3 separate regions of the Homo sapiens genome follow, and regions 2 and 3 are each linked to region 1. The links come from fine-mapping of genetic effects on gene expression. A gene starts in region 1. Each other region holds a variant in brackets. All regions are shown on one strand. Distances are from middle to middle.

Region 1 (2,754 bases):
CCTTTATCCACTTACGGGGATAACTGCATCTTCCTGGGAAATGTCAACTCAACTAAAAATAAAGTGCTTCCAGGACTAGCGGCCAGTCTCTACTCTTCATAAAGGGAAAAGGGCAAAAGCCCACTGAAGGTACTTAGGCTGAAAGCAGCCCTCTGTGCTGTGAGACACCTGGCAGAGAAACGAACGATACCTTTATCAGTGGGGCCACAGACCAGTACTAAGTCAGCCTGGAGAATTTATGATTTTATTGCCTATTTAGAATACGATCAAAACCGATGTAACTAGTTTCCCTTCAGCCCGTCAGTAACGCCTTCACCCCAGAGCTTAACACTAAATCCTACAGATAAGCGCTGACCTGGACGCAGGATGGGGACAGGGCACATTACTCTGGAATACAGCCCAACTCGCAGCGCTGTGGGGGCCGCGACTGCCCGCTTCCCCCAGATGCCAAGCAGGGGATGCGGACGAGATGCGGCCCGGGTGGCTCGAGGGCTGCAGCCCCCGCCCGGCCCCTCTCCCGCTCCCCCGACCCTCGCAGGCCCCAGGGCTCCGCCGCACCCCCCAGCACCCCGTCCCGGGCCCGACCCCGAGGCGCGACCCGTACCCCTCAGGGCCGCGGGTCGGGAACACGGTCCCCGCGGCCACCCGGGCCCCGACGGCCCTCCCCGCCCGGCCCTCAGCGCGGCCCCGCCCGCCCGCGGCCTTGACAGCCCGGAAGAAGCGGAGGCGGCGCTGCCCGGCCGTTCCCGCGCCACGCAGCCCTTCCTGGCACCTCGCAGCTCCGCTACGGCCGAGCCGCGGTCTCCCTCACGGCCGCGGGAAGGAGGACGGCGGGGCACGGGCGGCCGCAGGCGCTGCGCTCCGGCTCCGGGAAGCTGCAGCGAGCACTTCCGCTCCGTCCTCCGCGGCGCCGCCTCCAGGGCCCCCAAGATGGCGCGAGGGCGGGGCCAAGGGCTCCAACCATTTCCGCTTCCGGCGCAGACGCGCAGGCCGTTGGCGGGCGGGCCTCCCGGCGGAAGAGACGACAGCGGCGGAAACGCGCACAGGCGCAGCTGCGTCCTCTGGCTCCGGGCCCGGCTAGCTTCGCTCCAGAGATTGCGCGGGCTCAGGGACTAGGCCCGTGGCCACACCCCCCCTTGCGACAAAGACCAATGGAAGCGGGCGTTGCTGGTCGCTAAGAGAACCCTCGGCGGCAAGATGGCAGCGGCGGGCGAGGGCACCCCGAGCTCCCGCGGGCCGCGTCGGGACCCGCCTAGGCGGCCGCCCCGGAACGGTAACGACTGCGGGCCACGGGACAGGTCGCTGGCTGCCCTGGGCTCCATTCAGGGTGCGATCGCTCTACGCCCTCGACCCCCAAATGCTCACCTCGGAAAGTAGAGGTCCAGGTGCCGCGGCGGAGCCAGGGCCGCCCCCGCGTCCCCCACTCCCACAGGACTCGCCGTGCGCCTCGGGCTCGGCTCGCACCCTTCCCCGAGCCCTCCTCCCGCAGCAGGCCAAGCCCTGCAGGGGGTCGCCCCCCGCGGGCTCCTAGCCGGGAAGACCGGGTTCCGGCCGCAGCCTCACAGCCAGCGGGACCTGGGGTTGCCATGGGGATCCCGAAGCCCAGGACTTGGGGCGAGGGCAGGCGCAGGAGCAGCACCAAGCCTCCTGACTTCCTGGCCGGTGCTGTCCAGAAACGCTAGGACGCGTTTCAAAAGCAGTTTTTGCCTGTACTTCCAGCACTTTGGGAGGCCGAGGCGGGTGGATCACCTGAGGTCAGGAGTTCGAGACCAGTGTGGCCAACATGGCGAAACCCGGTCTCTACTAAAAAATACAAAAATTGGCCCGGGGTGGTGCCTCCTGTAGTTCCAGCTACTCGGGAGGCTGAGGCAGGAGAATCGCTTGAACCCAGGAAGCGGAGGTTGCAGAGAGCCGAGATCGCGCCGCTGCACCCCAGCCTGGGCGACAGAGCAAGACTCAGTCTCAAAAAAAAAAAAAAGAGCAGGTTTTGATAGGAACTGTTTCTAGAATCAAATAAACGGGTCTGGAATGAACTCAGAGCTAACACTACTATCTTCAGGTAGAACCTGACCCTGATTTGGGACAGATACAGTAGCCTGTAGTAACCCCCTGCCCTCCTCCCCGACATTTTCCCATAAACCCTGCCCACAAAATGTGCCTGAGGAGCTGGTAGGGAGGGAGCCCTGCCCATTCCTGGAACTGCAGGAGTTGGCGGGTGGCACACCCAGCAACTAGGAGGAGATGAAGCCGGCCAGGCCATCCTTGGGTATGAGTGTGGATTTTCTCCCCAGCGATAGGAGGCCACTGAAGGGCCACGGCAGGGGATGGGAGAGTCTGCTCCTCCCCTGTGTGCCTCACTGACACTGCCGCTCTGCCTTCCCCTGGCTCACTCATCTCCTGCAACAAGGCTCCCAACCTGCTCCTCACCACCTCCCGAGCACCTCTGGTCTCTCAAGGACCTGCAGTTGTTTCAAGCCAGCCCTCCTCTTACTGGGCCTGTCTTCTCTGCACCAAGTAGGTCCTCATCCTTGTCACATAAACAAATGAGCAAATGAATGGCCCAACAGTCGACAGGAGAGCTCATGAGCCCCACAGGTCGCCTCTGGTCTGCTGAAGGTGACGTGTACCAACCCCTTGAAGGCCCTCAAGGGAGCTGCACTCCCTCCTTCAGCACTGGAGAGCATCCCTCATCTCTGTGTCTGTGCTTACCTGTGTGTGTCTTCTCAATACTCAGGTTATGGTGTCTACGTATAC
Region 2 (2,754 bases), 24 kb after region 1:
GATTACAAGCATGAGCCACCGTGCTGGCCTGTCTGTCTTTTGGATGTAGCCATCTTTGTGGGTGTGAAGTGGTGCCTTCTTGTGGTTTGGATTTACATTTCCCTAAAGGCTAATGATGTTGAGCATCTTTTTGTGTGCTATGGGCCATTTGTAGATCTTAGTTGGAGAAATGGAGATAAGAGGCAGAACTTGACTCCAGAAGTGGGGCTCAGACACAAGACCAAATTGAGGACTAGATAAAACAGGGTCAGGGAGGAAGCAGCCTTCCATAAGACACGCCCACCAACGCATCATGCCAGTTTACCATCACCATGGCAACACCTGGGAGTTACCACCCCTTTCCATGGCAATGGCCTGATGACCCAAAAGTTACTGCCGCTTCCCTAGAAATGTCCACATAAACCACCCCTTGATCTGCACGCAGTTAAAAGTGGGTATAAATATGACTGCGACACTGCCCTGAGCTGCTGCTTTCTGCCTGGGGGGCAGCCCCGCTCTGCAGGAGCTGTAGCCCTGCCGCTTCCATACCTCCCATTCACCCTTAAATCCTTCCCTGGCCAAAGCCAAGAACCCTCACAGGCTAAGCCCTGCTGTAGAGCTCACCTGCTCTGCATCAAGATGTCGTAAGAGTTCTTGACATATTCTAGACACAAGCCCCTTATCAGATATCTAATTTGCAAATACATTTTTCCATTTTGTGGGCAGTCAGACAGTTTCTTGCTGGTGTCCTTTGAAACACAAAAGTTTTAAGTTTCGATGAAACCCAATTCTCTCTTTTTCTTTTTGTTGCTTTTGATGTCATATCTATGAAGACTTTGCTTAGTCTGGAGTCATGGAGATTTACTCCTGTGTTTTCTTTTAAGAATTTTATATTTTTAGGCCAGGCACGGTGGCTCACGCCTGTAATCCCAGCACTTTGAGAGGCCAAGGCAGGTGGATCACCTGAGGTCAGGAGTTCAAGACCAGCCTGGCCAACGTGGCAAAACCCTGTCACCACTAAAAAATACGAAAACTAGCTGGGCATAGTGGCGGGTGCCTGTAGTCCCAGCTACTTGAGAGGCTGAGGCAGGGAGAATTGCTTGAACCCAGGAGGCAGAGGTTGCAGTGAGCCGAGATCACGCCACTGCACCCCAGAGCAAGACTCCATCTCAAAAAAAAATGACATATTTTTAGCTCTTACATTTAGGACTGTGAACCGTTCGGTATTAATCTTTTTGTTTGGTGTAAGGAAGGGGTCCAACTGCTGTATATTCCTTTGAATGTGGGTATCTATTTGTCTTAAGATCATTTGTTAAAAAGAGTATTCTTTCCCCAATTATCTTTTTGTTTGTTTTTGTAATTTTTTTTTTTGTAGAGACAGAATCTCACTATGTTGCCCAGGCTGGTCTCAAACTCCCAGGCTCAAGCGATCCTCCCACCTCAGTCTCCCAAAATACTGGGATCACAGGCATAAGCCACCAAGCCTGGCCTTTTTTCTTTTTCTTTTTTTTTTTTTTTTTTGATAGAGCAATGAATTATCTTGTCCTTCAGTTTGCTAAAGTTTTTTTGGGAATTTCTGCATCCCTGTTCGTGAAGGATATTGGCATGAAATTTTCTTTTCTTGTAATGT[C/T]TTTGTCTAGTTTTGCTATCAAGGTAATGCTGTCCTCATAGAATGAGTGAATTGGGAAAAATTCTCTCTTCAATTTTCGGGAAGAGTTTGTGTGCACTTGAGAAGAATGTGAATTTTGTTGTGTACAATATTTTATAAATCAGGTCAATTTTGTTGATATTATTGTTTTTCTACGTATTTTTCTATGTATTTTTCTATGTGTTTTTCTATGTATTTTTCTATGTATTTTTCTATGTATTTTGTTGATATTATTGATATTCTGTGTATGTATGTATACTATGTCCTTGCTGATTTTCTGTCTGCTTGTTTTATCAGTTATTGAGAGTAGCATATTGAAATATCTGACTATGATAGATTTGCCTTGCTGGGTGCAGTGCCTCATACCTGTCATCCTAGCATTTTGAGAGGCTGAGGCGAGCACATCACTTGAAGTCAGGAGTTTGAGACCAGCCTGGCCAACATGGTGAAGCCCCATCTCTACTAAAATCTCTACTAAAAATACAAAAATTAGCCAGGCATGGTGGTTCACACCTGTAATCCCAGCTACTTGGGAGGCTGAGGCAGGAGAATTGCTTGAACCTGGGAGGCGGAGGTTGCAGTGAGCTGAGATCGCACCACTGTACTACAGCCTGGGTGACAGAGCAAGATCCTGTCTCAAAACAAGCAAACAAACAAAAGATTTGCCTATTTCTGCTTTTATTTTTTTTTTAATTTTATTATTATTATACTTAAAGTTTTAGGTACCTGTGCACAATGTGCAGGTTAGTTACATATGTATACATGTGCCATGTTGGTGTACTGCAACCATTAACTGGTCATTTAGCATTAAGTATATCTCCTAAAGCTATCCCTCCCACCTCCCCCCACCCCACAACAGTCCCCAGAGTGTGATGTTCCCCTTCCTGTGTCCATGTGTTCTCATTGTTCAATTCCCACCTATGAGTGAGAATATGCGGTGTTTGGTTTTTTGTTCTTGCGATAGTTTACTGAGAATGATGATTTCGAATTTCATCCATGTCCCTACAAAGGACACGAACTCATCATTTTTTATGGCTGCATAGTATTCCATGGTGTATATGTGCCACATTTTCTTAATCCAGTCTATCATTGTTGGACATTTGGGTTGGTTCCAAGTCTTTGCTATT
Region 3 (2,754 bases), 35 kb after region 1:
TGGCCCTTACCAGCCAGGCCTAGTTGGGCGCCACTCCCCACGCACACATCACCAGGCCTCCCAGGAACACGCTGGACCAGGCCAGTGTGTGCACAAACCCACACGCAAACAGAGGCCTGAGCTGCAGGACTCCAGGAAGAGGCCTCACTCTAAGCCCCGCAACATGAAAATCCATGCATTTTACCATTCACAGTCAGAACTTAGCAGTGCCCCAGGCGACCAGACCTGAGTGTGACGCCACAGCTCTCACACTCCCTTTTCCCACCGGCCCTTCTCCTGAGTTAAGGACTGTCTGACATTTGGGGTAAACTTGGACCCACTGTGAAGTCAGAACGCACCCGAGAGGTGACGCTGCTGGAGTTGTCATAAATAATAATGGGGGCGGCAGGCAGCTCTTCCTTCAAGCCAAGACCTGCTGTCTTCTCCCTGGCGAGTCTTTTTTCTCTCTGGGCCTCAACTGGCCCCATCCCAGCAGGAGACCTCCCAGAGAGGCTGAGTAGCGCTCCCTGGACTCAGTGTAGGCAAGTCCCAGGGTCCAGGGCGTGGGCCACGCTGTCTGCCTGCACCCTAGTTTGGTGTGGGGTGAGTAGAGCCAAGCTGCCCCCATTCCTTTGCAGTGGGTTCGAATGCATCCCTTATCCTGTGTCCAGCCCCGCAGCTGGGGTGCCGGGGCCCAGAGCTGCCAAGGGAGGGGCAGAAGCCGACGTGCCCCTGCCCAGGGGAGACCTGGAGCTGCATTTGGGTGCCCTCCATGGCCAGGAGGACACCCCTGGTGGCCTGCTTGGTAAGTGGAGCTCACAAACCAGTTGGGGGTGGGTGGGCCCAGGCCCAGCAGTCAAGGTGGGGGTGGGGTCATGGGGACCCAGAACCAGGCCAGAGCAGGAGCAAGCCGCACCCAGGGTCAGTCATCACGCGTGGGTGAAAGGAGGCAGGGCCGGGCAGCCCACATCCCCAGACAAGCAGTCACGGGTGGCTGCGGAGGCTCAAGCCGATTGTTCGTCTGCCGTGAGCCTGGCAGGGGCTGCAGCCTCGTGGGGTCCTCAGGGCAGAGTTCTGGGTCTACTTGGCTGAGGGCAGCAGACTCACCCAGGCCTCGAGGCCAGTGGCCAGCCTGGACACGGCCCCAGCCACTCCTGCCGCCCGGGAGCCCTCACAGCAGCC[G/A]CCGGCCATGGCTCTGGGGGCCGCGGCGCCGACTGCTCTCTCGAGGTCAGGGTTTCCCGCTGCTCCGCTTCTGCACGGGTTGCCTCACGTTTCTTCGTGGAGATGAGGCCCAGGTGCTCCGGCAGAACCCCCCAGCCCCCAACTCTGCCCCCCAAGGCTGGGGCCAGTGAGAACTGCACTTCCATAGAATGTGCGGCCTAGACTTCACAGGGATCATTCCAGAGTTACTCATGGAGTTGAATCAAAGCTTAATCCCTCCGGTGCAGCGAGCAGTGCACATCAAACCCTCCTGTGCAGTGAGCAGTGTGTGCGATTCAAACCCTCCCGCGCAGCACAGTGTGCGTCTCAGTGCCGGACTGAGGGAACAGTCTTGACAGCGTTGGGAGGCCCTGGGGTGCTGCCGGCCACCGGGTCCTTCTTGCCACAGCCCTGCACCCCAAGGCTCAGTAAACGGGGGTCGGGCGTGGGGGTCCCCACTGGACAAATGCCTGGCACTTTGAGTTTGGGGGCCTTTGAAGAGGGCCCAGCTGACAGCTGAGGTTCCCGGTCCCCAAAGCTGGGATCTGAGCCTGAGGTGCTGCTTGGGGAGGACACAGGCCGCAGGTTCCTGGGTTGAGGAGCACAGGGCAGATCTGAGAGGCTGTGCTGAGCCCAGATCCACAACTTAGCAGGGGTGGGCTGTGTGCCACCACCTTCCACATGCAGATAAATGTCCCAGGTTTGACGAGACGTCCCTGGTCATCCCCAAATGCGCCTCATATGCCAGCCCTTGTCACCTGCCTTGGCCGATGCGAGCTCAATCCCTGCCATGTCCCTGCCCAGCCCTTCCCACCACATGCAGCCCCAAGTCCCCTGAAGGCCTCTCCCCAGGATTTGCACAGATGGCACCACCAGGCGGCCGTCGCGCCGCCTCCCCAAGTGCCAAGGCCTCTCTACTCTAGACCTGAGCCCCACCTGCCGCCCCTGAGTCCTCACAATCCCCCGACCTGGCTGCCGCACTGGGGTGATCCCCCAACTCCAACCCTCCAGGCCCCTGGGGCAAGCAGGCAGGGCCAGCCCCTTCCCAAGCCGGAGTCCGGTGAGCCTTGGCCTGGACCCCCCTTTCCTGTCCCTTAAGCCAGCCTAGCAGGCCCCAAAGCCTCCCTCACATCTTCCTGCCCAGGGTGTGCCTGTCCCAAGGGTGCCGCAGACCCCAGCCCGGCCAGCCACACTGCCTTGTGAGCTCAGCTCAGCTCTGGGCTCTCCTGCAGTGAGACAGGGCTGAGGGCTGAGGGGCGTGGTTGGCAGGCTGTGCCAGGGCCCTTTCTCCCGGGCACTGTGTGGCCTGTGACCCTCCTGGTCACTGTCTGCAGCAGTCCCTCTCAGCGGCCAGCACTCCTGGCCGGTCACTCGGCCCCGAGTTCTCCCTAAGGTTCCGTGACTCACATGGCTGAAGTGGGAGAAAGCGGCAGCGGAATGCCCCTGGCCGCCCTGGGAAGAGCCTCCGCCACCAGGGCCACCTCCATGCCCGTGCCCCTGCCCCCAGAAACCTCACCCAGCTGGTGGCTAGAAGCCCCAGAGCCTCAGAGCCTCGGGGGTCTGTGCTTGCAGGGA

The links. PIP is the estimated chance that this variant, and not a neighbour inherited with it, causes the effect.
Region 2: its variant is the best candidate, but not a certain one, in a credible set for the expression of MORN1 in whole blood (INTERVAL, PIP 0.85).
Region 3: its variant is the best candidate, but not a certain one, in a credible set for the expression of MORN1 in whole blood (TOPMed, PIP 0.60).

Annotation. Positions count from the first base shown.
Region 1 is chr1:2,389,977-2,392,730 of GRCh38, reverse strand. MORN1 (MORN repeat containing 1) reads left to right here and starts at 1,177. Exons shown (of 14, transcript NM_024848.3): 1 at 1,177-1,273; 2 at 2,735-2,754. The coding sequence starts at 1,198. RER1 (retention in endoplasmic reticulum sorting receptor 1) reads right to left here and starts at 890. Exons shown (of 7, transcript NM_007033.5): 1 at 773-890. RefSeq lists silencers at 605-904, 1,005-1,114, 1,245-1,314, 1,475-1,604 and enhancers at 146-1,018, 887-1,181.
Region 2 is chr1:2,366,053-2,368,806 of GRCh38, reverse strand. All of the region lies in intron 8 of MORN1 (MORN repeat containing 1), which reads left to right. Among named protein-coding and RNA genes, the nearest start is that of MORN1, 24 kb to the left of the region's middle. The variant C/T (reference allele first, on the strand shown) is at 1,610.
Region 3 is chr1:2,355,462-2,358,215 of GRCh38, reverse strand. It overlaps MORN1 (MORN repeat containing 1), which reads left to right. Exons shown (of 14, transcript NM_024848.3): 10 at 618-784. Among named protein-coding and RNA genes, the nearest start is that of MORN1, 35 kb to the left of the region's middle. The variant G/A (reference allele first, on the strand shown) is at 1,162.